Homo sapiens: one gene and its partners. The protein of the gene in region 2 interacts with the protein of the main gene of each other region in a pairwise test. Each region holds a gene or a part of one and is shown on either strand. Other genes may lie near its edges.

Region 1 (7,027 bases), on a different chromosome or scaffold from region 2:
GCAATTCAGAGGCCTCTTCTCAGTCTGTTCACTAGGTCATTCAGAGTATGCCACTAATGTAGGAAGAAAGTATTTTGATTGACAGCATCATGAATGTTTAATCCTTTCAAGTATGTTATCTATTTGGAATGTATGCAATAAATTCACTTTCATGAACACTATGATGCCATGCAGCTGGAGACTACTAATGGATGCACATTCATTTTACCATTAGGGAAGAAAGTCTGCTACAAAGCAATATTTTAAATGAACTTCAAAACCAAATATAAATGATTCAGTGACTACCATTTATTTTGGATCTTCTCTCTACCTCTCTGTGAACTCCATTAGCAGAGGTGATTAGGAGTAGGCTAGAAGTCAAGCTTGCTCACATTTGGAAGTCTGAGGTCAGAACTACTGCAAGTAGTTCTGCTGACAAGATAGTGTTCACTGCCACAAGCAAGTGGGCCCAAAGCAAAAGCCAATTTCTTTCCACTAAAGACTACTGTGAGGTCCCTACGATTAGATGGATCTTATTAAGGGCTTTAAAATTATCTGAAGTTTAAATTATGTCATGTCCAAATTAAAGATTGTAAGAATATTTTTATAAATGTTAAATGACTTTGAATAATAAAAACAAAAAAATCCAATCTTTGAAATCAACTCTTTCCACAGACCAATTTTTATTTTCTTCCATCAGTTTTGAAAGGAAAATTCTTAATTGCCTTACAAGGCATTCTGTGGTGAAGTCATTCAAAAATATAAAAGAATCTATACTGAGCATGTTTTCATTTAATTTTTTAAACTTTAAAAGACACTCACTTCATATAGTGTCTTGTCTTTTTTCTTTTTTAACCATAAATGGTGTGATACTGTATTTAATGTTCTATTACTTTTTTTCTTTTTCGAGACAGGGTCTCACTCTGTCACCCAGGCTAGAGTGCAGTTGGGTGATCATTGCTTATTGTAGCCTTGAACTCCTGGGCTCAAACCATCCTCCCACCTCAGCCTCCTGAGCAGATGGGACCACAGGCATGCACCACCATGCCTGGCATTTGTTTTTTGGTTTTCGGTTTTTTTTTTTTTGGTCAACATGCTGTGATCTGGGAGCCTGGTTAATTTTTAAATTTGTGTGTGTGGAGACAGGGTCTCACCATGTTGCCCAGGATGGTGTCAAACTCCTGGCCTCAAGCAGTCCTTCTGCCTTGGCCTCCGAGTATGCTGGGATTACAGGCAAAAGCTAGCACAACTGTCCTGTATAACTTTTCATAATTACTAAATTATGCAAAAATTTCTGGGTCTGTACATATGGATCTATTTCATTCCATTTAACTGTATGGATATACTATTAATTGAATGAACCATTTACCTGCTGATGGACATTTCTGTTTATAATGTTTACATTATGCAGTTCATATTATATACAGTTGACAACAAAAAATGCTGCCATGAATATCTTTGTGCAGCTCTTTAATGCACAGTGACTATTTCCTTAGAATTGTTAAGAGTATCATTTTTCAATTCAACAAGAAATGGTTAAAAGGTCCCTTAAAAAGGTTATTCAAGTTTATACCACTAGGCTGTTAAGTATCCCTTATGTGAAATGCTTGGGACTAAAAGTGTTTCGGGTTTCACATTTATTCAGATTTTGGAATATGTACATTATACCAACTGAGCATACCAAATCAGAAACTCTAAAATCTAAATGCTCCAATGAGCATTTCCTTTGATCATTATGTGGGCACTCAAAAAGTTTGGGGTTTTAAAGCATTTAGGATTTCCAATTTCAGATGTTCAGCCTGTACCATTACATGTCCATTTCCCTATACATTCACCAATACCAGATATTTTCAATCTTTAAAATATCTGCCAGTTTAATGAACAAAATATGGGATTTCACTATTTTAACTCACACTTCCCACATCACTGGTGAGCTGTTTACTAGCCATTCATATTTTTTCTCTTCCGTGAAATACTTAACTTAGAACCTTTTCCCATTTTCTTTTTCTTTTTACTTATGGAAATTGTTATGTATTCTGGATATTCCTTATTTGGTGTAAATGTTGTAAATCTATCTTCCTAGTCTGTCATTATTTTAACTTTGTTTATGCTGCCCACTGTCATATAGAAATTTAATTTTTAGAAATTTTTAGTTGAATTTATCAAATCTTTTTCTTTGAAACTTTTGTATTTTGTCTTGCTTCTATACCTCAAAGTTAAAAAATATTGTCCTCTACTTTTTTCTAAAACAGAGGTTTTGGCATAAAAGTCCTGTCTTTGCAAATCACTCAGGAAAACAGGTGGACACTAACTAAAGGCAGTTACTTCCCTACCCCTCCTGCTCCAACCCCTAGAGCTGTGAACTATAACCCAGGATCACTTCCTTTTGATGCTGCTTTGCTGGGGTAGAAGGGGACTGTACAGTGAAGCTTTGACCTGAGGAGCTCTTCTGTAGGTGAAGAGTGGTTAACTATGGTTCCTGTGTGCCTGGGGCCCCCCACTCCTAGGACTCATCCACCCCCTACCCAGAACTTACTAGTACTAGCATGGACTGGGGCCCCCTCCATTCCAGTGCCTGATGGGATAGCTGATACTCATGGATGAAAAGCAGTTTGTAGGCTAAAATAAAAAGATATTTTAAGAATATATTTCTTTTTTTTTTTTTAGAGATGGAGTCTGGCTCTGTTGCCTAGGCTGGAGTGCAGTAGTGTGATCTCGGTTCACTGCAACCTCTGCATCCCAGATTCAAGCAGTTCTCCTGCCTCACCTCCTGAGTAGCTGGGACTACAGGTGCACTCTGCCACACCCAGCTAATTTCGTTTGTATTTTAGTAGAGACAGGGTTTCACCGTGTTGCCCAGGCTGGTCTCGAACTCCTGAGCTCAGGCCATCTGCCCGCCTCGGCCTCCCAAAGTGCTAGAATTGCAGGCATGAGCCACCACGCCTGGCCAAGAGTACATTTCAAAAGAAAAACAACACAATCAACTACAAGTTTTGGTCAGGAGCAACAATATTAGAACTGCTGACCAAGAATTTTAAACTGGGGAGCGGTAACCATACTAAAAGAAATGAGAAAATATTAGCAATATGAAACAAGGACAAGAAGAAGAGAGCCAAGCAAAAACATTAGGTGTGAACAATATAATAGTTGAAATGAAGAACACGGTATATAGCAGGAATAACAGAATGGTTATAATGTAATCATGGAGTACAGTTGAAAATTAGATGGTCAGATTGAGTCCGGGCACGGTGGCTCACGCCTGTAATCCCAGCACTTTGGGAGGCCGAGGTGGGTGGATTGCTTAAGGTCAGGAGTTCGAGAGCACCCTGGCCAACATGGTGAAACTCTTTCTCTACCAAAAAAAATACAAAAATTGACCAGGCGTGGTGGCACATGCCTGTAATCCCAGCTACTCGGGAGGCTGAGGCAGGACAATCACTTGAACCCAGGATGCGGAGGTTGCAGTGAGCGGAGATTGTACCATGGCACTCTAGCCTGGGCAACAGACCAAGAGTCCATCTCAGAAAAAAAAAAAAGGAGGTCAGATTGAGAAATCTCCCAGAAGAAGTACAAATAAATAGATTTTTAAAAAAACCAACCCTGTCTCTACTAAAAATACAAAAATTAGCCAAGCATGGTGGTGGGCGCCTGTAATCCCTGCTACTCAGGAGGCTGAGGCAGGAGAATTGCTTGAACCTGGGGGGTGGAGGTTGCAGTGAGCCAAGATCATGCCACTGCACTCTAGCCTGGGCGACGGAGCAAGACTCCATCTCAAAAAAAGAAAAAAAAAAAAAAAGGCTAAGACCAAAGACAAAAAGAATTATATATCCATAATTAACCAGAACTAAAACTCAAGATACTACCATTTATGATGGTGGTTGGAGTGATGGAGCTTCCTATATTTAATTTCCTATATCTAAATTTCTTTAGATAAAATTGTTTAAAAGAGTAGCCAGGTGCAGTGGTGTGCGCCTATGGTCCCAGCTACTCGGGAGGCTGAGGCAAGTGGCTTGCTTGAGCATTTTTTTGTTTTTGTTTTTTTTGAGACAGAGTCTCGCTCTGTTGCCCAGGCCTGTCTTCTTGTTTATAATCTGAGACAGAGCCACAGATGCACAACATTCAAGCATTTATTCCTACTTCTTCTATACAGGTACTGAGATGGAGTTTTAGTGGTAGCAAGACCAACATACCTTCAGCATGTAGTAGAAGGGGAACCATGACAGGAAGATATCAGAGAAGAATTCAGCAATGCTGAACACACCATACACTACCCAGTAGGTCAGCCACTGGGTATCATCTTCTTTGTTGGGACTCTCTATAGCTTTAATTCTGAAAGGCAGTACAAAAGAAAGTATATCATTTGGTAAGATATCAATGAAAGATTTTCAAATACACTTTCATAACCTGTCCTCTGATACCACTGAGAAACTTAGGCACATGTAGGCACTGTGTCACTAGATGCAAGAGTACAGCTTAAAGACTGGAAGCAATGTGGATATCGGGACAAGCCATTATAACCACTTGTTTCTAGTCTCCTGGTCACCAGAGAAACCAGCACCAGCTGTTACTGCCCTGGATCTCCACCCTGCCAAAGCCTCCCCACAAGTCCTAGAATATACCACTAGTGACTGGGAGCTAGAGCAATTTCCACTCCCAAGCTGGGTCCTGCCACGAGGGATATATCAGGAAGAATTCTCTCGTGATAACCAGGTTCTTATGTACTTTTAATAATTGAGATATATCATGGGTGAATAAGAATTTCCCATAAAGCAACATTTGGAACATAGGTTAGGTACTGCCCAAAATCCACAGCATATTTTATAGTAAACGGGTGAAAACAAACCTCATGGTGTCTATTTAGTTCAGAATGTCTTTAACTGATCCACAGGCTATGGACTTTCCTCCTCTCCTCAGTTAATAACAGGACTTTCCCAACCCTAACTATTGCTTAAACAAAATTCATTCTGCAAATGGATGGAAATACATTTAAAATAATTTTCTAAATCACAGAAATTTCCTTCAGTCCTAGGAATCTCATTATTCTAAACCTGAAGCTCCACAATTTCTTATCCTAACAGATCTAGATATTTATCGTAACTGAGCTGGACTGAAACAGTAAAATAAAAGAACTCTGAATCTTGTTTAGCCTATGAAACAGGTTAACTACTGAAAATACATTGACAGGGAGCTAAGCTATGAGGATGCAAAGGCATAAGATACAATGGACTATGGGGACTTTGGGGAAAGGGCTGGGGGTAGTGAGGGATAAAAGACTACACATTGGGTACAGTGTACCCTGCTCAGTTGATGGGTGCACCGAAATCTCAGAAATTGCCACTAAAAACTTATCCATGTAACCAAACGCCACCTGTTACCCAAAAACCTATTGAAATAAAAAATTTTCAAAAAGCAAATACATTGGCTACTCCATAACATCAGCTCCCCAAAGAGACAGTCAGGCTGCTAAATCATGCTCAGTCACTCACTAAGAAAGCCCTTGTACAGTTAATTAGAAGCAGCTATGTGTGTGAGTTTTAGAAAATAACCAAAAGGGGAAAAATTGTAGCTCAATGAGATGATTACTAATGAGGAAGACAGAGAGAGGAACAAGTAATAAGGTGAATGTTGCTTTGAACTTCAAGACTAGGCAAAATTTTTATTTTTTTGAGACAGGGTCTCTGCACAGGCTGGAGTGCAGTTGCACAATAATAGCTCACTGCAACCTCAAACTTCTGGGCTTATGTAATTCCCTTCACTTCAGCCTCCCAAGTAGCTGGTACTACAGGTACACACCACCACACCTAGCTACTTGCTAAATTTTTAGTAGAGACAAGGTCTCACTGTGTTGCCCAGGCTGGTCTCGAACTCCTGGCCTCAAGCAATCCTCCTGCCTTGGCCTCCCAAAGTGCAGTCTGGTGGCTCCCACACCCAGCCCCAAATATTTCAAAGTACAAGAATCATATAAAATGAATTTAAGAGAGCTGATTATTAAAAAATGGCTTGTAATGTATGCACAAAGTCTGTATTTTTTTAGCTTCCTTCAGATAGAAGCTGGCGAATGTAATAGAAGGCCAAAGGAAAAGTGTAGACAAGCATGTTAACCAAAGAACACAGTATATCCTTTATGTGTAAGATTTCTTCTCCCGCTGTGTTTCATTTGGTATAGTATGGCTTATCCATATTTAATTGGATTTATTTAATTATTAGTATAATAAAAATTTGTTTCCTGTACATTCATTCTGGGCAGAGGAGATACGTAATTACATTTCACTCAAGGTCTTAGTTTTGTGAACGCAATAGCTCACAACTATGTACTTCCAAAAGAAGCAACTCTCAGGACACACCTGGGAATTAAACAGTCTTTTCTAGAATATGACGTAAAAACCTCAAAATGTGATGGGACTGTCATTGTTAATCCAGTGGCTTTTAAATTCTTTTGGCCACAACCCTCGGTAAGCATACATTTTACATCATGATCCAGTAAACAGACATCTTCACATAAAAATATAAACTTAAATAGATATTTCCTGAAACCATTCTGATATTTTAAATTCCATTCTATTTCATTATTTTTTAAATGTTAGTCAAGTTCCACAGATTGAAAAACAGGAAGCCTAACAGTTCAGCTCTTCTAGGAAAAAAAAATTCTTTTTTAATTCATATCTACAATATGAATTCTAAAGTCCCCATGTTAATATACTAGAACACTATATAGTAACATTGAAAAGTAGAAATAAAAGAACTCCAAATTGAATACATACACTGATCACAACTTTGCAGAAAACCAAGGCATATGAAAGAAGCCAGGAAAAGGCCAATGAGTCTATTAAGCTAAAGAGATTTTTTAATAGATCTTCTCATATTATTGAAGCATTTAATTGTTTTAATTTAAAATAGCACAATGTTCAATTTAAAAAATGTCTTTATGTGTCATAACAATCACAAACTACCCAAAACAAGAAAAAAGGGAAGAGATGGTCTAGCTCACTCAGGAACGTGAGGTTCAAAAAAGTGAAGTGCCCCATGTAGTCATGGTGAGAGAAGAAAA
Region 2 (7,106 bases):
TCTCATGTATTTCAGAGGACTGAGGGTCTTTATGAGAATCTGATGAAAACCAGAAGCTTTTCCCTAGAAATACACACATGTGCAGACACATAATTTTACATGCAGTTTCAGGGGATTCACTGATCCCTAAAACTCACCCATAGGCTCCAAGTTAAAAACCTCTGCTCTTTAGGACAATCAGGTTTTTGTGTGACTCCTGATGCAATGCAACACCAGGGGCACAACATTTACCTTTGCAAAAAAAAAAAAAAACACTTTTCTAACTTCAATCAAATCCAACCTTTAAATCTAACTTCTAGTCTGCACCACAAGGAAGAAACCAGACAAATCTCGGTAGTAAATTCTCCAGGAAAGTCAGTTCAGGCTCAGTCTCTTCAGCAAATCAATGTCACGAGAGAGATTGTCTTAGACTGAAAAAAGACTTAAAAGACATAATAAGTACAAACAATGCACACTCCTGGACTGAAATGTGATTTAGCCAAAAGAGATGGTACAACTGAGGAAATGGAATATGAACTGAGTATAGGATGATATCAAGGAGTTATTAATTTTGTTAGGTATGGTGTTACTTTGATCTTGAAAGAAATGTCCTTATTTAGAGATAAAAACTGACATATTTAGGGAGTAGAATGCCATATAAGTAATTTAAAATAATTTTAACATAATAAAATGAGTCAAAAGAAAAAATGAAAATTATAGAGAATGAAAATCAAAGCAGGATAGGAGGGAAAAAGTTAAGATCCATAATCTCAATAAATTAGTAAAAATGGGCTGGGCACAGTGGCTCACACCTGTAATCCCAGCACTTTGGGAGGCTGAGGCAGGAGGATCACTTGAGCCCAACAGTTCAAGACCAGCCTGGGCAACACAGTGAGAGCCTCTCTACAATTTTTTTTTTTTTTTAATTAGCCAGGCATGGTGGCTGAGGTAGGAGGATCGCTTGAGCTGAAGAGGCTGAGGCTACAGTGAGCCATGTTCACACGACTGCATTCCAGCCTGGACAATACAGCAAGATTCTGTCTCAAAAAAAAAAAAAGTAGTGAAAATGGTATCTGCTTATTCACAGGTTTTTGTATTTCTTTAATTTTTGTTCAAAATTATACCCTAATTTTTTAATATTAATTATGCTAATATTGGGGGCAAAGGAAAAAATTAAGCCTGCTCTAAGCTGTAGAAGGCGTGATGTTCAAGGTTGTCCAGCAGTCCAGAGGAAGGAGCTTATTCAGTCACAAAGAAGAACCTTGCTGAAAGGCAGGATCATTCCCAGTATCTGCCTCTCCTGGGCTGGGCCTGAGACACAGGGTAGGCCTAGATAAACCCAGAGGCCGAACAGACCTCCCAGAACTGCTCCTCACTAGGGCAGAAAGGACAGCCCAGCCACTGCCTAAATGGTCAGTGTTAGTTACTACAGAGCAGGACGGCAGAAGGCAGAGCAGACCAGAGCAACTCCACAAAGTCTGTACCTGAGCAAGTATCGAACACCATCACCTGCATCCTTCAAGGGTTCCAGGTAGATCTCCAGCCTCTTGTAGGAGAGAACCAAGTTGAAAAGGTCAAACGCTGGGGACTTGGTAGGAAAAGGTGGAGACTCCAGGGGAGCCTCGGGCATCACGCTGGGGCTCAGCTCCGGCCCACTCCCCTCACGTTCTGATGTCTGCATCCTGTAACCATAATAATTCCCAACATTTGCATTGCACGTCTAGTCCTCAACACAATTCTACCTACAGATTCAGGTGGTGCCAACAGTAAACCTGTGAGCAAGGGAAAGTGAACTATTCAGACCTAAAATCCTGTTCTTTGTACTCTCCATCCAATGCTCTTTTCCCCAAAGATCCATCAAAACTAAAAATCATAAAAACCAAGCATAAATGATCGCTGCAGCGAGGCAGCCCATGGGCTGAAATGAAATGATGTCCTGGAACATTTTTCTCCCACTCTTTACCTGGTTAATTCCTACTCATCCTTCAGGTATCAGCTTAAACATCACTCCCTTACTCTGGGAAGTCTCTGCCAACACCCCCAACTCTGGACTGGGAGACCCTCTCCGATGCTCCCAAAGGATCACGTACTCACCCTAACAGAGCACTTATCACATCACATCGCTTCTTGGCCTTGTGGCTAAGATCAAGTGCAGAGCACTGACCACGTCAAAGTAAAACTCCCTGCTCTTAACTGGCCTCCATTCACGACTGCTTCTGTACACAGTGGGTGCTTAACAAATGCCTGCTGAATGAGTGAATGAAATACCGTGCTCCAGGACTCTCGCCCGATCCTCTAACTCTTCCCACTCCCTTCGGTTCCCAACAACTTCCTGGGCCATCTCTGCCCCAGGGCAGTCGGCATCAGAACGCCCCATTCCCGTCTGCCCTTTCTGATGAGGAAACCGAGGAGCCTTTACGGTCTTTCCCAGTTCAAAGTCCTATCCTGAACTCTAAGCAGCAAACGAGGGGGCGGAACCTCGGCGAAGAGCAACATAAACCAGTCCCAGGCAATCAGCCGCGACCTGATGGGAGGGTGAGGGGATGGGACAAAGGGGCCAACGGGACCCCGAAATCCCCGCAGGCCGAGCCAAGGCGAAAGGGCACAGAGCGGCGCCAGGTATGAGCCCAGGAAGGGGCGAGGTATATCGACGCCCGCACTGGCCTTGGCCAACACCTCTGCAGCCAGGGGGGCCTGATGGAGCCCGTGAGGCTGGACAGGGAAGGCCATGCCCGAGGTCGTGGGGCCAGCATGTGGCGGCCCCCGCTGCGCCCAAGCACCCAACTACACACAGCCTGCGGAGACACTGGGACGCGGGGGGACGGCACCTCACCTACCCGGCCGCTGGCTCCGTGAGGGAGGCGGCAGGGTCGGGCAGGAGCAGGGGTAGAGCCACTGGGCCCCGGAGCGTTTCTTCAGGCCTCCCCCGGCTGAACGCCGCTCCTCCTGCCAGGGTTGTTCGGAAGTCGCAGGTCCGAAAATCTCCTCCGCCTACGCCGCGGCCGCCACCGCCGCTTCCGGGACGCGAATCGCTCTGCGGCTGCGTCCTCATGACGTCATCCCGCTCCGGGTTTAGCTCCGCCCACCCCAGCACAGGCAAGCACCCTTGCCAGCAGTGCGCCTGCGCGTCTTTCCCGCGCGCTCCAGGCTGGAGTTAATTCTGTCCTTGGCCGGCCGCCGTTCACAAAGCCTTGAGGACCCTTGGAAGCACGTGCTTGGCGACCCTGCAGCTCGTTGCCCTGCCTTGCCGCAGGGAACAGTTGGCGAGAGGCTTAAATGAAGAATTTACGTCTTCATCCTCTTTCCTTCCAACTTTGGAACTGAACTGGGGACTGTGTGTGAGCCCCGGAAAGACACCGTATCCTGTATGAGATGCCCAGCAGAGCATGCAGTTGTTTCCGGAGTAGCTAGTGTGTACAAGGTCCTGTGCAGGCCTCTCCCAGCTCAGTTCACTTCACACCGTGTGGCCCAGTTAATTTCCCTTAAAGCACACATCCGATGGCTTTATATTAGTGACTTAGCGCTCAGGTACAGAGGAGCCAAGCACTGAACCGGACTGAGCTCTTTTTAGACATTATCTAGTTCTCCTCCAACGACCCTATTAGGGTTGTCGCCATTTTACAGATGGGGAATCTCAGACGTGTTAAGGAACTTCTTTAGAGTCACAGCTAAGAAGCAAATGGGAGCTGGAATTTGAAGCTTATGTGTCATCTGACCCCAACGCCCCAACCATACCACCACCCACCTTGGTCTGCATTTCCTGGTCTTGTCTCCTGCCATCTTTCAGCTGCCTTTAACTTTGGCCAACTGAACCCCTCCACTGTTACCCTCAAATGCCCCTGGCACTCAAATGTCTGTATCCCTTCCTTGAGTGCCCCAGCTGGAAGTAATCACTTCCCTCTTCAAGTAGCCACAGAGCTTTAACTGCATCTCTTCCTCCATTATCTCCTTTCAGAAAGACAGGCCCATCCCTCCAGCCAGGACTTAGCTGTGCTCCAGGGTCCAACTCTTATTTCCTTAGGGCTTTGCTCTAACAGGCCTGAAATCTTGACTCTCGCTAACTCTTAATCATCATTCTAGAGACAAAATTCATGGAAAATTTCTCCTTTAGCCTAACTTTACCCCCTCTTTCCTACATGAGTTGGAAGACTCACTGTGAAGTGCTCTCTACCGCTGCTTCCTCGCCCAATTCACTCCTCACTGCACTGTGGTCCTGCTCCCCTCCATATTTCTGGGCTACCTGCCTGCTCACCTGTGACATCCTGGCTGCTAAATCCAATGGACACTTCCCAGTCCTCCTTGCAGATGACCTCAGAAGCACTGGAATCTCTTTCCTTTTTGGCACCATTGTCCACCTTAGCTTCCATGACACCACCCTCTCCTCTCTTTCCGACCTTCAAGGTCTCCTTAGGGCTTTTCTTCCTACCCCTCAAATGCTGGGGCTCCTTTTGCTACCCTTCTTTCTTCTGACTCAAGGCACTCCGTGAGGATCTCATTCACTCTTGTGGCTTCTGTCAGCTAATGTTTCGTTTCCCGTGTCTATGTCTCCAGCACCTAAAGCAGTACCTGGCACATAGTAGGCATTCTGTTAAGAAGGGTTGCAAGATGTTACCATTGGGGGGTAGTCTGTGGGATCACCCTGTGTTAGTTCTTATAACTATGTATAAATTGACGATTGTCCCAAAAGTAAATGCTTACCCTGTGTAGGTATTTTTCTCAAAGCTCCCTGCTTTAGTTGACTTTGTCAATTACCCGGCATGCGCCAGTCCCAACATAAGTAAGGTAGGAGGGCTTCTCCTCAGATGAATTGCTTGGTTGGTTTTTCCAGCTGTAAAATGGGGATAACCATAGTGGTACCCTCAGTGTGGGGCTGTGATGAGAATTAAATGAGCTAAAGTATGTAAATTCCTGACATGTTATAAGTGTTCAAAAATCGTTAGCAATCATTGTGATTTTTATTTTTACTCAAAGCCCTACCACCACCACCCCTAGCCCAAAAATCAGACAAGAATCCACGAAAGGCCAAAATGTAGAAAGATCCAATTCCCACACATATCACTAAGCCATATACAGAAATCCACTCACCACCCCTTAGAGAAATGGACTGAGCTTTGTGGTGGTCCAGGCCCATCTGCTGGACTCTGCCTCTCCTCCCTTAGGATGGGTCTTTTCCCCGAAAGCTCCTGGGTCTGTCATGCAGATAGCCTCTGAAGGCCCCTCTTCTTCGTTTCCTAACCTGGCCTCAGGTCTGAATTCCAGGATAGGCCATCGCCACTCCCCACCCACTCCCATCCCCCACCCTGTCCACCCCTCTGTACCTTTCTCAGACCACTCTCTTGGTGGATAGTTTCAGTGGCCCCCTGTGACCTCCAGGATAAAACCAAAGCCTGGTGTATTCAACTCTGGCAGTTCTCGGATATGTCACACCTTCTCCCATTACTGTACCTTTCTACAGACTACTCTCACCTTTTTTTTTTTTTTTTTTTTGAGATAGAGTTTTGCTCTTGTTGCGCAGGCTGGAGTGCAATGGAGAAATCTTGGCTCACTGCAACTTTTGCCTCCCAGGTTCAAGCGATTCTTCCGCCTCAGCCTCCTAAGTAGCTGGAATTACAGGCATGCACCACCATGCCTGGCTAATTTTTTGTATTTAGTAGAGATGGGGTTTCACCATGTTGGCTAGACTGGTCTCAAACTCCTTACCTCAGGTGATCCACCTGCCTCGACCTCCCAAAGCGCTGGGATTACAGACGTGAGCCACTGCGCCCCATATTCTTTAGTTGGCCAGCTCTTATTCTTCCTCCAAAATTCAGCTCAGATCTCACCCCTGAAGAAAGACTTCTCTGACACCTTCCCCATCAGCAGCCACTGTCTGGATTACGTGCCCTTCTGACTTGGCTCCGTGGGCCTGCCCCACCCCAGCACTTGGTGCCTCCTCCTCTCTCTAGACAGTGAGAGTCCTGAGGGAACTGCCTATAATTTCTGTGTCCAGCATCTAGCACAAAGGAGGTACCAACAAATGTTCCTTGAATGAGCGCATGCGTGTCAGTTTCCTCTTGGAGCACAGAATTCACATCTCTTTCAACAAAAGCCCCAGAACAATGCCCATTTCTTTTTTCTTTTTCTTATCTTTCTTTCCTTTTTTAATGTAATTTTATTTTATTTTTGAGATAGGGTCTTCTGCTGCTGCCCAGGCTGCAGTGCAATGGTGCAATCATAGCTCACTCTAATTCCTGGGCTCAAACAATCCTCCTGCCTCAGCCTCCAGAGGAGCTGGGACTACAGGTGCACACCACTAACACCTAGCTACTTAATTTTTATTTTTATTTTTTTTTGAAACGGAGTCTCACTCTGTCATCAGGCTGGAGTGCAGTGGCACGATCTTGGCTCACTGCAAGCTCCGCCTCCCGGATTCAAGCGATTCTCCTGCCTCAGCCTCCCGAGTAGCTGGGACTACAGGTGCACACCACCACGCCCAGCTAATTTTTGTATTTTTAGTAGAGACGGGGTTTCACCATGTTGGCCAGGATGGTCTCGATCTCTTGAGCTCGTGATCTGCCTGCCTCAGCCTCCCAAAGTGCTGGGATTACAGGTGTGAGCTACCGTGCCTGGCCAATTTTTTTTTTTTTTTTTTTTTTGTAGAATGAGGTGTTGCTATGTTGCCCAGGCTGGTCATGAATCATTTCTTAAAACAATGACTGTGAAACCAGCAAGAATGAACTGGACAGAAATTCTACCCTCTATGAACTCTTAGTTCAACAGAAGACGCTGACTTGACTGAGCCATGATATAAAGCAGGGGATTCTACTGTAACCGTAGGAGCAGAGAGAAGAGGCAGACTTAATCTAAGTGAGAGGATGGGGAAAGTTTTGTGTTCAACAATGTAGTATTTAAGCTAAGGAGTCCCCACCCTTCTTAAGAAAAATAAATTTTTTTCTTTAATAACCTAAGTACCGGTCAGGCACAGTGGCTCACACGTGTAATCCCAGCACTTTGAGAGGCTGAGGCGGGCAGATCACCTGAGGTCAAGAGTTTGAGACCAGCCTGGCCAACAAGGTGAAACCCCGTCTCTACTAAAAATATAAAAATCAGGCCGGGCGCGGTGGCTCACGCCTGTAATCCCAGCACTT
Region 3 (7,027 bases), on a different chromosome or scaffold from region 2:
GAACCTTGGTTTCTAGACCGTGTTAAGGTCTGTATTTATTAGTTTTAGGACTGTTAGACCTTTTGAACTGTTCATTACACTTGTCTTTTGTGAACAGCATTGGATAGGAGATTTTTTGCCATTACCTAGCCGTGTGACCTTTGGCAAGTCAGTCTTCTGGAACCTAGTTACCCATTGGTAAATAGAGATAACACTCCTTACTTGCTTTCCACCATTCCAGATACAAACCAGTTGCATATATCTCCATCTTTTTCTCCTTCCTCATTCTAAAGGAAGACAAAGACATGAATCCGTCAGGCCCAGGCTCTTCACTGTGCATTGCATTCCAGCTCTTTTCCTCTCAGCTCTCATGAAACTTGGTCAACAATCTCCATTTGTCCCATTGATTTTTTGTAACAGCAATGCTTTTGTTCTCCCATGGGTCTTTGTGGAATTCCTTTCATGAACCATCTTTCCTTTCCTTTTCATCTGCTAGTCTTCCTCAGGGTTTTGACTTCTCTGGTAGTCTCTCCTTGACTGTCCAAGATAGCTCACTTTCTGTCTTCTTAGTGCCCTCCTGAACTCTGGATAGTGTAAACTTCTGGAAGGTAGAGATGTTTTTATTCACTTTTGTATTTGCATCTGAATTATAGTAGATAATGTTTAAATGCATAAATATATGACTTACAAGATGATATAGGTGAAATCTCAACTATATATATACATGTATGTATGCACACAACGTCTGTCTTTATGTTCATGTATATATGAATTCAGACTATCTCTAAACCTGTTGCAGAATATTTTGTCTCTGGGAAGGAAATCCTAAATCTGTATCCTGTCCTCTCAGCAGGCAAGGATCCAGGCTAATTGCCATCCTTTGTCCTGTCAAGCTTCCTTGTGGAGTGAAAATAAGCCACAGTACAAGGTTTAAAATTCTGGTAGGAGAGACAAGTTATGGTAGGTAGAACTAGAGTGAAAATAAAACTGGGGAGGAGACAGAGCTAGTTTCTGTGAGAAATAATTGAGTTAATAGAGACTAGCTGTAGAAGTAGAAATAATGAGTTTCAATTTACTCCATAAACAGCAAAGTTTAAATGTATTACTCACTTTTCTCCATGTACTCTAGCTCCAATTTGGAGCATATTATTCCCCAAACTGTCCTTTGAAGTGTTAATTAACTAGCTATTTAATTATTCTCTATTATCCTCTTTGGAGATTGGGAGCTAGAAGAGCTGCTAAAACCCTGAAAAATAATCTCTAGGCCCAGGGAAGGAGCTGTACCCTGTGATTTGAACTTAATATTTAAAAATGGCTTATTTTAGACTAAACTTTAGAGCACAGCCTCTCCATTTTAAATGTGCACATAAATTACCAGATCCTGTTAAAACGCAGATTCTGATTCAGTTGGTCTCAGTGAGGCCTAAGATTCTGCATTTCTTGCAGTTCTCTCAGGTGAGGCCGATGTGCTGGTTCATAGACTACACTTTGAGTAGCAAGTTTAAAACAGAGAGCATTAGAAGTAGGAGGGCTTCTGAAGTTAACTCTGCATACCTGAATTCATGGTTGATAGAAGGCCTTGGCTTGGAGAAAGAAAATATTCTGAGAAACACTTCTGCCATGTCCGAAATAGTTCATCCCATCTTGGGAATCCCAGAGGGGACCACTACATTATAACAATAACTGATATTCATGAAAATCTGTTGGAATTCTGTTCAGTGACTATCTAAAAGGTAGGCAGGAAAGTATTCATTAAAGTTTAGATATATTTTCATCAGGATGATTAAAATCAGTTATATGGAGAAATCCAAAAATGTGGAACAAAGTCACCCATGAGGAAATCATTCTTGAAAGGTAAGCACAGTGTAGTACTTTGCTAATAGGCTTTTTGAGGTGTCATCTGCCACTTGACATCTTTGTCTAGACCAGCACTAGCACTCTAGGTTGTTCTTTGGGTGAGAAGCATAAATAGGGAAAGGAGGCCTGGCACTGAATCTTGTCTTTATCACTTAATGGTATTGAGATCTTGGGAAAGTTCTCAGTTTCCCTGAGCCTGTTTTGCTACCTGTGAAACAGTCATATTACCATTTCATCCTAGAATTTTTAAAGAGAGGATTGGTGAATGTGCTTGGCATAGTTAATATCCTTTTACCATTATTTTTCTCCTACTTTGATCCTGGTAGGCAACTTGCTGTGTGTCATTTGGCAATTAGTGATATATTGGCTTGACTTCTATTGGTGGGAGCTGTTATGAGGTATGCAGTGCTTCATTTTGGAAATCCCTGGCGCTCAGAGAGCAGCAGATATTCTTGCTTCTCAAAAATAGTGGGGCTCCCATGGATTTTGTCTCTCTACACATTTTATGTTGTCCCATGTGGGAAGAAGTTAAAGTGAGTGGTGACTTGTCCCTGGGTCCCTTTCCTAACAAAGTGGTCCTAAGTTCAGGCTCCTGTGTGCTGTGTAGGCTTCTCTAGCTGAGGTCGTGGTAAGATCTCTTCTGAGTCCTCTGGAGTTAGGGTGTGGCTGGAGTCCAGTATCTTTTGTTCTGTAACCTTTCAGTTGCAGTGGCCTTGGTCTGGAGAGTTGTGATTTGTCCTTGGTTAGATCACACACATCCAATACTTGGCTTTCTTACTCTTTCCCTCCCAATTTTGCCTGACTCTTAACTTCTGTGGGTTCTTATCCTTAAAAGGCGACTACTTGGAAATGAGAATTCGGTTGCTGCTCTGTGATTGTTCCTGTGTCCTTCCCATCTCTGAGGTTTTGTTTATTGGCGGCATGTTCCATATCCTGCCATTCTCTGCTCAGACCATTATCAAAACAACATTTAAGACGACTGATTCGTTAAAGACTCAGCTTTGACTTCTCAGAAATAAGACTGCATGTCACTATCATACTTTACCTTTTTAGTAGTACCTGAAACTACTTCTAACCAGTGACCTGGATTTAGGAATCTCTGGTTTCAAAATTGCTTCTAACTTGTTATGACTCTTAGAAAATAATTTAACCACACTGGGCCTAAATTTAGTTTAACCTGTAAAATTAGGATTGGATCAGTTTTTCAAACATTCTTTGTTGGTTGGGGTGGGATGGGAATGACAAGAAAGCTCAGTAGGTAGGTTCTTCATTCAACCAATATTTTGTTTATATACTAAAGCCCTTCACTATTAAATAACTTGGAAAAACTACTGGACTGGATGGTCTCTTAAGATTGCAAGTGCCAAGCCTTGGCACTCTAGGACCCATCCCTTTTAACAGTAGCATCTATTTTTAGACTAGACAAGGATACCTAAGCTGTATTACAAATATAGTTCCAGACACATCATGGTACTCTACATCTAGTCCGGTTCCTGATACCTTTAACCAATGCTCTGGCCTGGCCATTCCTGCAGTGCCTGTCCTTCTCCTTTGGCTTATGCTATCCTCAGCAGCACATGCATTATTTGTAAGCCTCCCTTACCCATTTGATACTACCCAATCAAGACTCTAGTATAAATGTTCTGTCCCTTCAAGAAACCTTCCCCAGTTGGCCATTTTCCCAAAGTACATTTTCCACTCTTATGGTTCAGTACACTTTGCTTTGTCTGGTAGTTTTATGTGTAAAGCTCAGAGGACTGGATCTTGGGTTTCTTTATAGTAAACCATCCAAATGCCTTGCATTGTACTATACTGAAGGTAACATGGATCCAAGTCATATGGCTTAAAAATTCTTTTCTCTTTCAGGATCGAATCATCAATTTAGTTGTTGGCAGCTTAACATCCTTATTGATTCTAGTAAGTATCCTCATTTTGTGCCTCACCCAGGCTCTTAGCCAGTTTTGAAAACTTTATCAATTATGGTTAACTTTCCAAAAAAAGCTAAATAAGTGCTTTTAATTTTATTACCACAAAATTGCAGTTGCTAATTGGAGTAGCTAATTTAATTCTGCCCCACCCCCAGGTTGAATATGTGAAATGGTACAAGTCAGACAACTTCGTTTTAAGATAATTGAGTTTACCATGTTTTGCCTAGTAAATTTGTAAAAATGTCAGTGGCTAGTAGCCACTTCCTTCTGTCATCTACCATAATTCCCCATTTCTATTTTGTTCCTGAAGAACATATCCATTACCCTTTGGTCAAGTTTTAAAAGATTTGGTCACAGTGTATAGTAGTTGTACTGTATACATCCTGTATACAGTATACATCTGGGAGCTATTACAATAAAATTTTTAAAAGCTGTATTTTCCATAGTTTGACATTTTTCTGGCACATTAAATTTAAGAGAATTTTTTTCCATGGCTTCTTAATGAAAAGATTGCATATAATGCTGCATCTGTTAGAAACAGAACTATACAACATTAGAAGTCTTTCAGTGTGTTTCATAATGTTATAGCAAAACCAGCTTTGATTATATTCATTTTGCTAGAAATATTTAAAATAACAAAATGGCTAGAACTTTTACCAGCAGAATCATTAATCCTGGGAGTGAGGTTTAGTTAATGAAGTTATTTTGGCATCAGCTAGTATTACTGATGTTTTCTCTCCTTTCATAAGTAAGGGAAAGTTTAGAAAAGAAGTACTAAAATAACTCGAACATATTTATAATTACTGTATTAACATTCTAGAAAGCAAACTTGGTGGCAGATGTAATTTTATAACATGAAGCATTTTGTAGTACTGTTGCCTAGACTCCAGTTGGTAATTACCAAGTCTTGGAATTACTGTTAAGGCCTTACATAATTTCTCTTCATACAGGTAACGCTGATAAGTGCTTTTGTTTTCCCTCAACTACCTCCAAAACCGTTGAATATATTCTTTGCTGTCTGCATCTCTTTGAGTAGTATTACTGCCTGCATACTTGTAAGTACTGTTGAGAATTTAAACAGTGTTCTTGAGGGTTTAAGTTGCAATGCACAGGACAAAAATTTTCAGCCTTGGGTCTATACAAAAGGGTATCTCTTAATTATATCCTCATCCTCCCCCTAAAAGTATGTTAGAATTCTCAATAAAATCTGAGTCTTCTCCTTTTCTCCTAAATCCCAAAGTTGTAACCCCAAAGAGAAATTCCACTCCCTTGATAGCTTAAAAAAAAAAAAAAAAAAAAAAAAAAAATTAGTGGAAAGACGTAGGTGGCCAAAGATTTTAATTTACTTAATTCATCTTCACTCAAGGACTACGTAAGGGCCAACAGTCTTTGGGAAATGCCAGTTACTGCTAAGGGAAGAGATAGAGCACTCTGGATTTAATTCTAATTATTACAAAATTAGTTTAATCTACATGTTTGTTTCCCAAAATGGAGGTATTAACACCAAAACCTCCTGGGAAATCTAAAGCTGCAGTTGTTGTAAAAATGTTTGATTTACTGCAAATGTTTCTTTTATGGTGAAGAAACAAAGATGGTGGTGGCTCCTCAGTGTTCATTCATTAGTTGGCTACATTGTTTCATGTTCCTTTAGAGGCAGAATCAAAAGAAAAAACAATAGTAATTTGCTTATCTGAGTTAAAATTAATTAAACCAGGAGACACCTCCAAGTGTTCTCATTCACTGATCCTGCTATATACTCCCATGACCCGAAGAAGAACTAGCCCATCCCACTTTGGGAGCTTTCCTGTTCCCCTAGCTTGAAGCCTAAAGTGACTAACAGACAATGAACTAGTTTAATCCAAATATATTATGGAAGCCCTATTTTACGGTCTGAACCAACTGTATGAATCATGAGTCTAAATGTTGTCTTCCTTTCCTGTTAAGTAGTATGCCCAGGTATATGTTCTTGGATAGCTTGCCAGATGACTGGTGGAGTATACAGGTGTGAATATAGAGGAAAGTAAACTGAGAAAGTAGGAATAAGTATGATCTTGGATGTGGAAACTCAGAGTAAGAATTAAATTCTGGCTGTACTGATCTCAGGAATGTAGAGACCTCAGAATATGGAGAATGTCTGTCTCATTTAGGGGAATAAACAAATACTAATGAAATTTGAAATTGGTAGAGAAAATGTTATATTTCAAATTTTAATTTATAAACTTTAATTCTTCTTTTAGATCTACTGGTATCGACAAGGAGACTTAGAACCGAAATTTAGAAAGCTAATTTACTATATCATATTTTCTATCATCATGTTGTGTATATGTGCAAACCTGTACTTCCATGATGTGGGAAGGTGAGGCTGCCAAGGAGAAGTACTTACCAGGACTCTTCAAAATGATACATTAGGACAGTGAGTAATTTTTGGATAAGGTATGCTGAAGAATCTCCTGCAGAAGTCTGATACATGATTTTCATGTTAATTGTAAATGTTAATTCCCTCTTGCAAGGGAGACATATCCTAGATCACTTTGCTTTTTCTTTAAGGAGCTGATGTTGCACCTAAACATTCCAACCCTTAAAGCTAAAACAGCACAAAAAAATTTCACTTTTGAAATGAAATTTTTATAATTGTATGGCAAAAGGCTATGTAAAAACAAATCTTGCATCTTAAGACAAATATTCTTTTATTTCTGTTAAACTGAATATACAATTGTTCCCTAGGCAACCAACTTTTGCTTATAACTACAATTTAATTTCACGTTGACAAAACACAGTGAAAAGACAACTTTGTGAAGATCTAATTACAATAATAAATAAAATAATTTATACAAGGGTTTTTTTTTCTTGACTTTTCTATAGGGGTCATATTCATTAAAAAGCCCAAAAGGCTACCTTTGCCTTAACCCTTCTGTAGTACAGGAATGATTCTTAGATTTGTTTCCTTTTGTTATAGAAGCAAATATTGTTTTTTTAAAATAGCCTGAGATGAGAGGTTATATTGTACCCCACCAGCTAACACACTAAGTGGATGACAAACTATTCTCTCGGTAATTTATATAGCAAAACATCTAATAAATGGTCATGGTATCAAGGATAGGTAACATTACTTCCTTCCTCATTTAGTTTTACTTCAAAGTGCTAACTTTGTAAACTAATGACAGTGGTTTCTGAGGGGGTGAAAACTGCTTAGATTCTGGTGGGTTTTGTTACTATGCTTATCCATATTCCCTTTAAAAGTAACAAAAAACCTGTAGTGAATT
Region 4 (7,146 bases), on a different chromosome or scaffold from region 2:
TGAAGATCAAATGCAATAATGCAGATGAATATGCATTGAAACTGTAGTTCTATAATATAATACAGAAGGTATTATCCATTCAACAAAGAGATAGAAGATAAAGGAATCTGAATTCAAACTGCCAGAGCAGGAATCCTGGGTCAATCATCTACTAGCTTTACCTTTTAATATGTAAAATGAGTATTACAGCACCTATTTCATATGACATTAGCTTAACGATGTTGGCTACTATTGCTGTTACTAAATGCCTACTGTGTTAGGCATTCTATTAGATACTGGTAATAAAATGGAATTAAGACTGACAGGGCTAATATCTGTGCCAAAACCTCTATCTCCTACTCCATCTACTACATTTTCTAAGTCATTTATGTCATATGTACTTAACAGCAAAGAAAAATCTAAGTAGTAAAGCATTTCCATAGAACATCAAGATAAGAGTCCAGAATTCCACTCTTTCTTTTCTATAATAATTTCCAGTAAACACTATAGTGATTCTAGTATTTCTTTTCCTAATCCATCACTTGAGTTGAAACTTTCCTGATGACTTCTGGGTAAACTATCTGAGATGTTTCTATCAAATGTAAATAATCTAAGGTAGTATTTCTCAAAGTAACACCTAAAGACCATCTGCTTCCCAATCACCTAAAATGCTAATTAAAAGGCAGATTTCTAGGCCCTCTTTCAGATCTATTGATTCCAAAGCTCTGGCTGGAAGATGGGAGAGTCTGCATTTCTAATAAGTCCCTGTGTGATTTTTATGAAAACCGGATGTGAGAACCATGTTCCCAAGAGGGAAAAACTCCCACTACATAAGAAGTTTATAAGGCCGGGAATGGTGGCTCGCTCCTGTAATCCCAGCACTTTGGGAGGCCGAGGCGGGCGGATCACGAGGTCAGGAGATCGAAACCATCCTGGCTAACATGGTGAAACTCTGTCTCTACTAAAAATACAAAAAATTAGCCGGGCACGGTGGCAGGCGCCTGTAGTCCCAGCTGCTCGGGAGGTTGAGGCAGGAGAATGGCGTGAACCCGGGAGGTGGAGCTTGCAGTGAGCCCAGAAGGCACCACTGCACTCCAGCCTAGGCGACAGAGCAAGACTCCATCTCAAAAAAAAAAAAGTTTATAGCCAAAGGAAATTCTGCGCAATAATGATCCAAAGCTTCATAAAGGAGAAAAATTTTAATCCTCAGAATACATTTTCACATGCTTCTGTTAACAGGGTGGAGACAACAATTCATGGAGACTGAGACCAAAAGTGACTTGAATATACGCACCCTAATTGTGTGTGTTCAATAAATTCCTATTCTAGAGGCCAAGAGAACGGGTGGAAAGGGGATACACTGCAAATGCTTACTTAAATTTCAGAAGAAGGAAATAAAACTTATTGCAATAGTCAGGTAGGTCTGTTAAAACTGAAGTTTCATGATCTCAGAAAATGGAACCACTTTCTCTTAAACTCAGCTAAGTCATGACAGACCTCCCCGCTCCAACTCTCCATGCCTACCACAAACCTTGGATAATCTCCCAAATGTAAACCTTGTCTACCGTATCCTGTGACCATTAGAACAATCAGAGGCAAGGAGATACACGGTCTTTTGATTAAAGTAAACTGAAATAACCAATTAAAATTTACATTTGTGCCTCTCGCTCAAATAAACAGTTATAGAAGAGCTCTCACTGAGATGTGGAACAGAATCAAGCAGCTCTGAACTTTTCAAATAATAACAACTGTTATTTCCAAATAACAATTTCTAAATAACAAGCTGATGAACAAAATATTTATTTACCCACCAAGCCACAGTAGCCTGAGACATTCTCTGGTTCAGATAATAAAATAAATGCCTTAGAGGGCTTTCGTTCCTAAGATGCTGGTGAGTTTAGCACTGTGACTGCAAGAAATCGGGAACCTACGACAAAAAGACGCCCAGCCTGCCCACACTAACCGTCCAGAACTAGGTCTGGAGCAGCAAGGCGGGCGGGGCCGCGATTTCTTCCGCATCGCTGCGCCCGTTCTTCTCCGCCTGCGTGAGCACCGCCCACCCACTCGCGGTGTGAACATACTGGGTCTCGCCTCTCCTTTCCCCTCCCCTCGGCCTGGTGCTGAATCATGAGCCCAATGTCTCCAAAAGGTAAAATCAAAGAACAAAGCCACCCTTGGGGCTGGTCTGAATGGGGTACCACGTCGGGGTGGGGCAGAAGGCTGGAAACCACAACTTTGCTCTCCTTCTTCCCCAATTCCCCCACCCAACCCCCAAATTAAGAGGAGTACTGCAGTGCTCAGGAATTCCCAAGAGGGTGGCCCTTCTCCCAGTTGCTCGGTCTGCTACCGTCCGTCCGGGACCCGGCGCGCTCCGCCTCATTGTTCCAGCGCGCCGCCCGCCGCCCGCCGCCGGGAGCCCGCGCCCTGCAGAGCCAGCGAGTTGGCGGCTCCCGGGGAGGGGGGTTGGGGCTTGGCCTGCTCTAGATCCCCGACCCCTCGCCCCTCTGGGGCCGAGTAACAACAGCCCCCTGCCCACCCCCATAGCCTTCCTCCCAACCGATCGCTAAGGCGGAACCCACAAGTCCCCGGAGGCGCCTGGTGGGTGCTGTCCAAATGCTGGGAGGAGGCGGGAGGGGGGTGGGGAAGAAGGAGCTGGAGGCCCGGCCTGCGCGAAGCTGCAGCCCTCACCCCGACAGCGCGATTCGGTGACGCGGGTACCGCTCGGCCATGGTTCCTCCGCCCAAACAGGGAGCGGCTCGGCTACGGCCCGTCTCCCAGCCGTGGACGCAGGCACCTAGCAGCCCTTGGCCCTCCCTGTCTCCACAGAAGCAGAAAGTGGAGGGCCAGAAGACCCCGTGCAGGCTGCAGAAGTTCTCATTTGCTACTCACCCCAACTGTTTCTGTCCCTGCGGTTCTTGGCCATGGTGGTCCAGGAGCTGGTGGCGGTGAGGCGCTGTCACTGCGCTCGCTGCCTTCTCCGGGGCCGCAGGTTGCTGGCGGTGGGAGGCTCCGTGCCCGCGCTGGGCGCAGTTCGCTCAGACTCTGAGGATGTTGCTGTGGCGCTGGTGGGAAGGAGTGGGGAGGAAAAGGGAGGAGAAAGCAGATGAACCAAGCTCAGCATCACAAGCCCGAGTTCACACAGATACCAGCGTCACACCCTCCCTACCTCAGTCCACCCCCAGACCGTGAAGACAGTGATAGACCACGTACCGCAACATTTTCAACGGAAAACACAAACAAATAAACAGCACCCCCCTCGAACACACTCTCAAAGAATTTAACAGCGTTATCAGAAATACACAAACCGATATACTGCATGATTCTGGATGTTCAAATACCTGTTTCAAGCACGGTTATACATTAGTACAAACAAGCTGGCAACATTTATATAGCCAAAGTAGCTAAAATAATGTGCATTTATCTACGAGGCACCCATTTTTTTTTCCATTTTAAAAGCAAGGTCATGTTAGTAAAGAGGGTATCATGCATTTTTGTATATGTATACTGAGTAGTTTGTCTTAAAATTAGAATAGCAAAATTTATATCAAGAAGATCAAGATAAATGAAAGCTGTAGATTCATTACGATCTGTAACTCAATATCCACTGGGTAAAATTTCCCACTAGATTTGCAAAGATAAGGTCCAGACCTATAGTCCAATAGCAATTATTTGAGCTGAAATCATACTACATAGTCTGGGTATGGGTGGGCCCTGGCAGCCATAAAGGTTGCAGACAATTTTGAAAGGAAAAGAAAAAAAATAAAAATACTTTCAATCTTTCCCTTTTCACTGCTTTCTCTCTGCTACAAACTTAGTTGTTTTCAGTAACCTGGAAACACTGTCCCTTTATACTACCTCAACCTCAAGATACCATCATGCCGTCCCTTACAGTTTCCTTCTGCCATTTGGTTGTTACTCACACTCTGTACTGATCGGTTCTTAGGAGATCACTGCCAGCCTCTTAATTACCAGATCCATGATCTCTGCTAATTCCTCATGGTAAGCAACTCCTCACGCTACACTCTCTCAATGTAATTTACTATGATGGCTTCAGACAGGACCTCCATGCTGATGATTCCCAAATCTATACTTGTAGTCTTCTGCCCTCTAGAAGAGAGGACATTATACCAGAGGTGTGTTTATAACTGCCTAAGGTTATCCTCACGTTGTTTTCCTACTGACATTTGAACATCAACATATCTGAAAACAAACTCCCCCACCACTGCCAAATCTTATGCATTATATTTCAGTTACTGGTTCTAGTGACTGCAGAGTCGTGAACACTGTAACCAAGTTTACAACATGGTTTTAAAGAAGTCTGTGCTCAACAGAGTTGAAATGACATTAATGAAACAACATAGGAAGACAGACATTATCTCATCCTTATACCTATAAACCAAGTTCATAGAACAAAAGAGAAGTGTGGTCTGCTTTTCTTCTTATATTCCTTTACTATCATTCTCAGCTTACATTCCAGCCTGAAAATCCCTTTCATATGAATCCCATTTTTAAGAGTACAATAGATTACACACAAAAAAGAAAAAATTTATATAATTCAACACCTATGCCCAATTGAAAAAGAAATTAATTTTTTAAAAACCTGTTGTGTTTATAATTAGTAAGTAATCTGCAGGTGAATACTTTGAGACTGTGTGAATCACAAAAAAATGCTTAAATAAATAGCTCTCTGTATGTGACTTTTTGTACTATTGGCCAATAACTTTTCATCCACTGATTTTAGCATCCATTGATCCTTGCCTGAATCAATTTCATATTAGTGATTTTTTAAATGGAGGCTTTAAAATCATTATCTGTTGTTTGTTTGTTTTCCAGACACAGTCTCCCTCTGTTGCCCAGGCCGGAGTGCAGTGGCGTGATCTCAGCTCACTACAACCTCCACCTCCCAGGTTCAAGCGATTCTCATGCCTCAGCCTCTCAAGTAGCTGGGATTACTGGCGGTCGCCAGCACGCCTGGCTGTTTTTGTATGTAGAGACGGGGTTTCTCCATGTTGCCCAGGCTGGTCTCAAACTCATGAGCTCAAGCGATCTGCCCACCTCAGCCTCTTGATGTCATGTCTTTTAAATTAAGTAGCTGGCATTCCCTCTCCCACTTTTCTATGTTGAGTCCCTCTATAAATTAATGGAAGCTTTTAAAAAAATTGTGCTATGCATCACCATTCTTTTTAATGCCTAAATTCCCCTAATTTGGCTGAGGGTCAGCTCGTGTGTCCTTTTAACATTGTCCCTTTTTGTCTTTGAGCAGTTCCCTGTATTCTGGTAAAAGAAAATGTTTCAGGTTCCTTTGTATTTTCCCTATCTTAGAACTAGAATAGCCATTTCTCCAAGATGCTGTGGCTCCTTTTAACGAGAAAAGGTGTTTAGAAACCAAGACGTGGGTGCTAGTTGTGCTCATTGCTGGGTGAAGATCACTGTTTCTAGACCCTTTCAGTGGACATTGCTAGAATGCATCTTTTTAATCATAAGTTTAATCTACTCTGAAGAAATACCTCAATAGTATGAAAATATAAACATACATGGTTATGTATTACATTACTTTTTGTTATTGTAAAATGCTGGAAACAACCTGAATGCCCACATATAGATGAGTGGTTGAATACATTATAATACATATACGCAATAGAATGTTATGTAGGTGTGAAAAAGAATACAGAAGATCTTTATAAGCTAATACAGAGTGATTTCCAGAATACAATGTTAAATGAGGAGGAAAAAGTGAAAATAGTATACCATTCCTGGAAAAAGGAAAGGATATGAAAAAAGTATCCATTCATCTGTGAAAAATAAATACAGCAAGACTAAACCAGAAACCAATGAGATTGGTCACCTACGGGAGATGGGTGGGAATAGGGTAGAAATAATGGAAGAATGGGAAGAGGGTAGTAGGGATTAAGGGGACTGATATTTCTCTAAGTGTAATGCTTTTATATAACTCTGAGTCTTAGAACAGTAATGTTTCACATTCTCCAGAATAAGTTTTAAAATGCTTACTATGATGACTATAATCAAAAAGATAATAACAAGTGTTGGTGAGATGTGGAGAAATTGGCACCCTCATAAACTGCTGATGGAAATATAAAATGGTGCAGATACTTTGGGAAAAAGTCTAGCAGTTCCTCAAAAAGTTAAACATAGAATTGCCATATACATTAGCACTCCTAGATATACACCCTAAAGAAATTACAATATATGTCCACAAAAAAACTTGTACAGGAATATGCATAACAGCATTATTCATAATAGCCAAAAGGTGGAAACAATCCCAGTGCCAAATAACTAGTGAATGGATAAACAAAATGTAGTATATCCATATAATAGAACATTATTTGATCATAAAAAGTTATTGAGTACCAATATATGGTACAACATGGATGGACCTTGAAAACATTATAGTAAATGAAAGTAGCCAGCCACAAAGACCACATATTATATGATTCCATTTATATGAAATTTATAGAATAGGCAAATCTAAAGAGGCAGAAAGTAGATTAATTGTTGCTTAGGGATGGAAGAAAGGAGTGGGAGGTTGGGGAGAAATTGGAGAGTGACTGCTAATGAGTATGAGGTTTCTTTTGGGGGCAATGAAAATGTTTTAGAATTCATCATGAAATCAACTTTGCACAACTCTTGGGTATACTAAAGCCACTGGATTAGGCTGGGTGCAGTGGCTCACGCCTGTAATCCCAGCACTTTGGGAAGCTGAGGTGGGAGGATCACTTGAGGCCAGGAGTTCGAGACCAGCCTGTACAACATACAAAGACCCCATCTCTATAAAAAAAATAGAAAAACTAGCCAGGTGCAGTGATGTGCACCTGCAGTCCCAGCTACTCAAGAGGCTGAGGTGGGAGGATCCCTTGAGCCCAGGAGTTCAAGGATTCAGGCCGCTGCACTTCAGCCTGGATGACAGAGCAAGACCCTGTCTCAAAAAATGAAACAAAACAAAAAAACTCCACTGAATTGTACAATCTAAGTTGGTGAATTTTATGGTATGTGAATTATGTTTTTAAAATACAAATGTTTTTAAAAAGTCAAAAGTCAAGTTCATTTTAAATCAGAATAAAAGAAGAAAAGGTATTACTCCATTTGAACTTTAGTACTTTAAATCCTCTCTCTTCCTGACTCTTCCGGGATGTTACTCCACAAACTATT

Evidence for each region.
Region 1: the proteins of ZFYVE27 (region 2) and REEP5 interact in binary tests that used the Homo sapiens proteins (3 or more experiments, as listed by UniProt).
Region 3: the proteins of ZFYVE27 (region 2) and TMEM243 interact in binary tests that used the Homo sapiens proteins (3 or more experiments, as listed by UniProt).
Region 4: the proteins of ZFYVE27 (region 2) and ATL1 interact in binary tests that used the Homo sapiens proteins (3 or more experiments, as listed by UniProt).

Annotation. Positions count from the first base shown.
Region 1 is NC_000005.10:112,898,211-112,905,237, forward strand, and holds part of REEP5 (receptor expression-enhancing protein 5), read right to left. Parts: intron 4,309-7,027; coding exon 4,170-4,308; intron 162-4,169; exon of another isoform or gene 1-161. UniProt on the Homo sapiens protein: Plays an essential role in heart function and development by regulating the organization and function of the sarcoplasmic reticulum in cardiomyocytes.
Region 2 is NC_000010.11:97,733,032-97,740,137, reverse strand, and holds the start of ZFYVE27 (protrudin), read right to left. Parts: upstream 3,011-7,106; 5' UTR 2,817-3,010; exon of another isoform or gene 2,813-2,816; intron 1,662-2,812; 5' UTR 1,661-1,661; coding exon 1,464-1,660; intron 1-1,463. UniProt on the Homo sapiens protein: Key regulator of RAB11-dependent vesicular trafficking during neurite extension through polarized membrane transport. Promotes axonal elongation and contributes to the establishment of neuronal cell polarity.
Region 3 is NC_000007.14:87,195,733-87,202,759, reverse strand, and holds the end of TMEM243 (transmembrane protein 243), read left to right. Parts: intron 1-5; exon of another isoform or gene 6-580; intron 581-1,533; exon of another isoform or gene 1,534-3,702; coding exon 3,703-3,753; exon of another isoform or gene 3,754-4,714; coding exon 4,715-4,819; coding exon of another isoform or gene 4,820-4,945; exon of another isoform or gene 4,946-5,078; intron 5,079-6,001; coding exon 6,002-6,124; 3' UTR 6,125-6,600; downstream 6,601-7,027.
Region 4 is NC_000014.9:50,556,022-50,563,167, reverse strand, and holds the start of ATL1 (atlastin-1), read right to left. Parts: upstream 3,024-7,146; 5' UTR 2,903-3,023; coding exon 2,869-2,902; intron 2,129-2,868; exon of another isoform or gene 2,042-2,128; intron 1-2,041.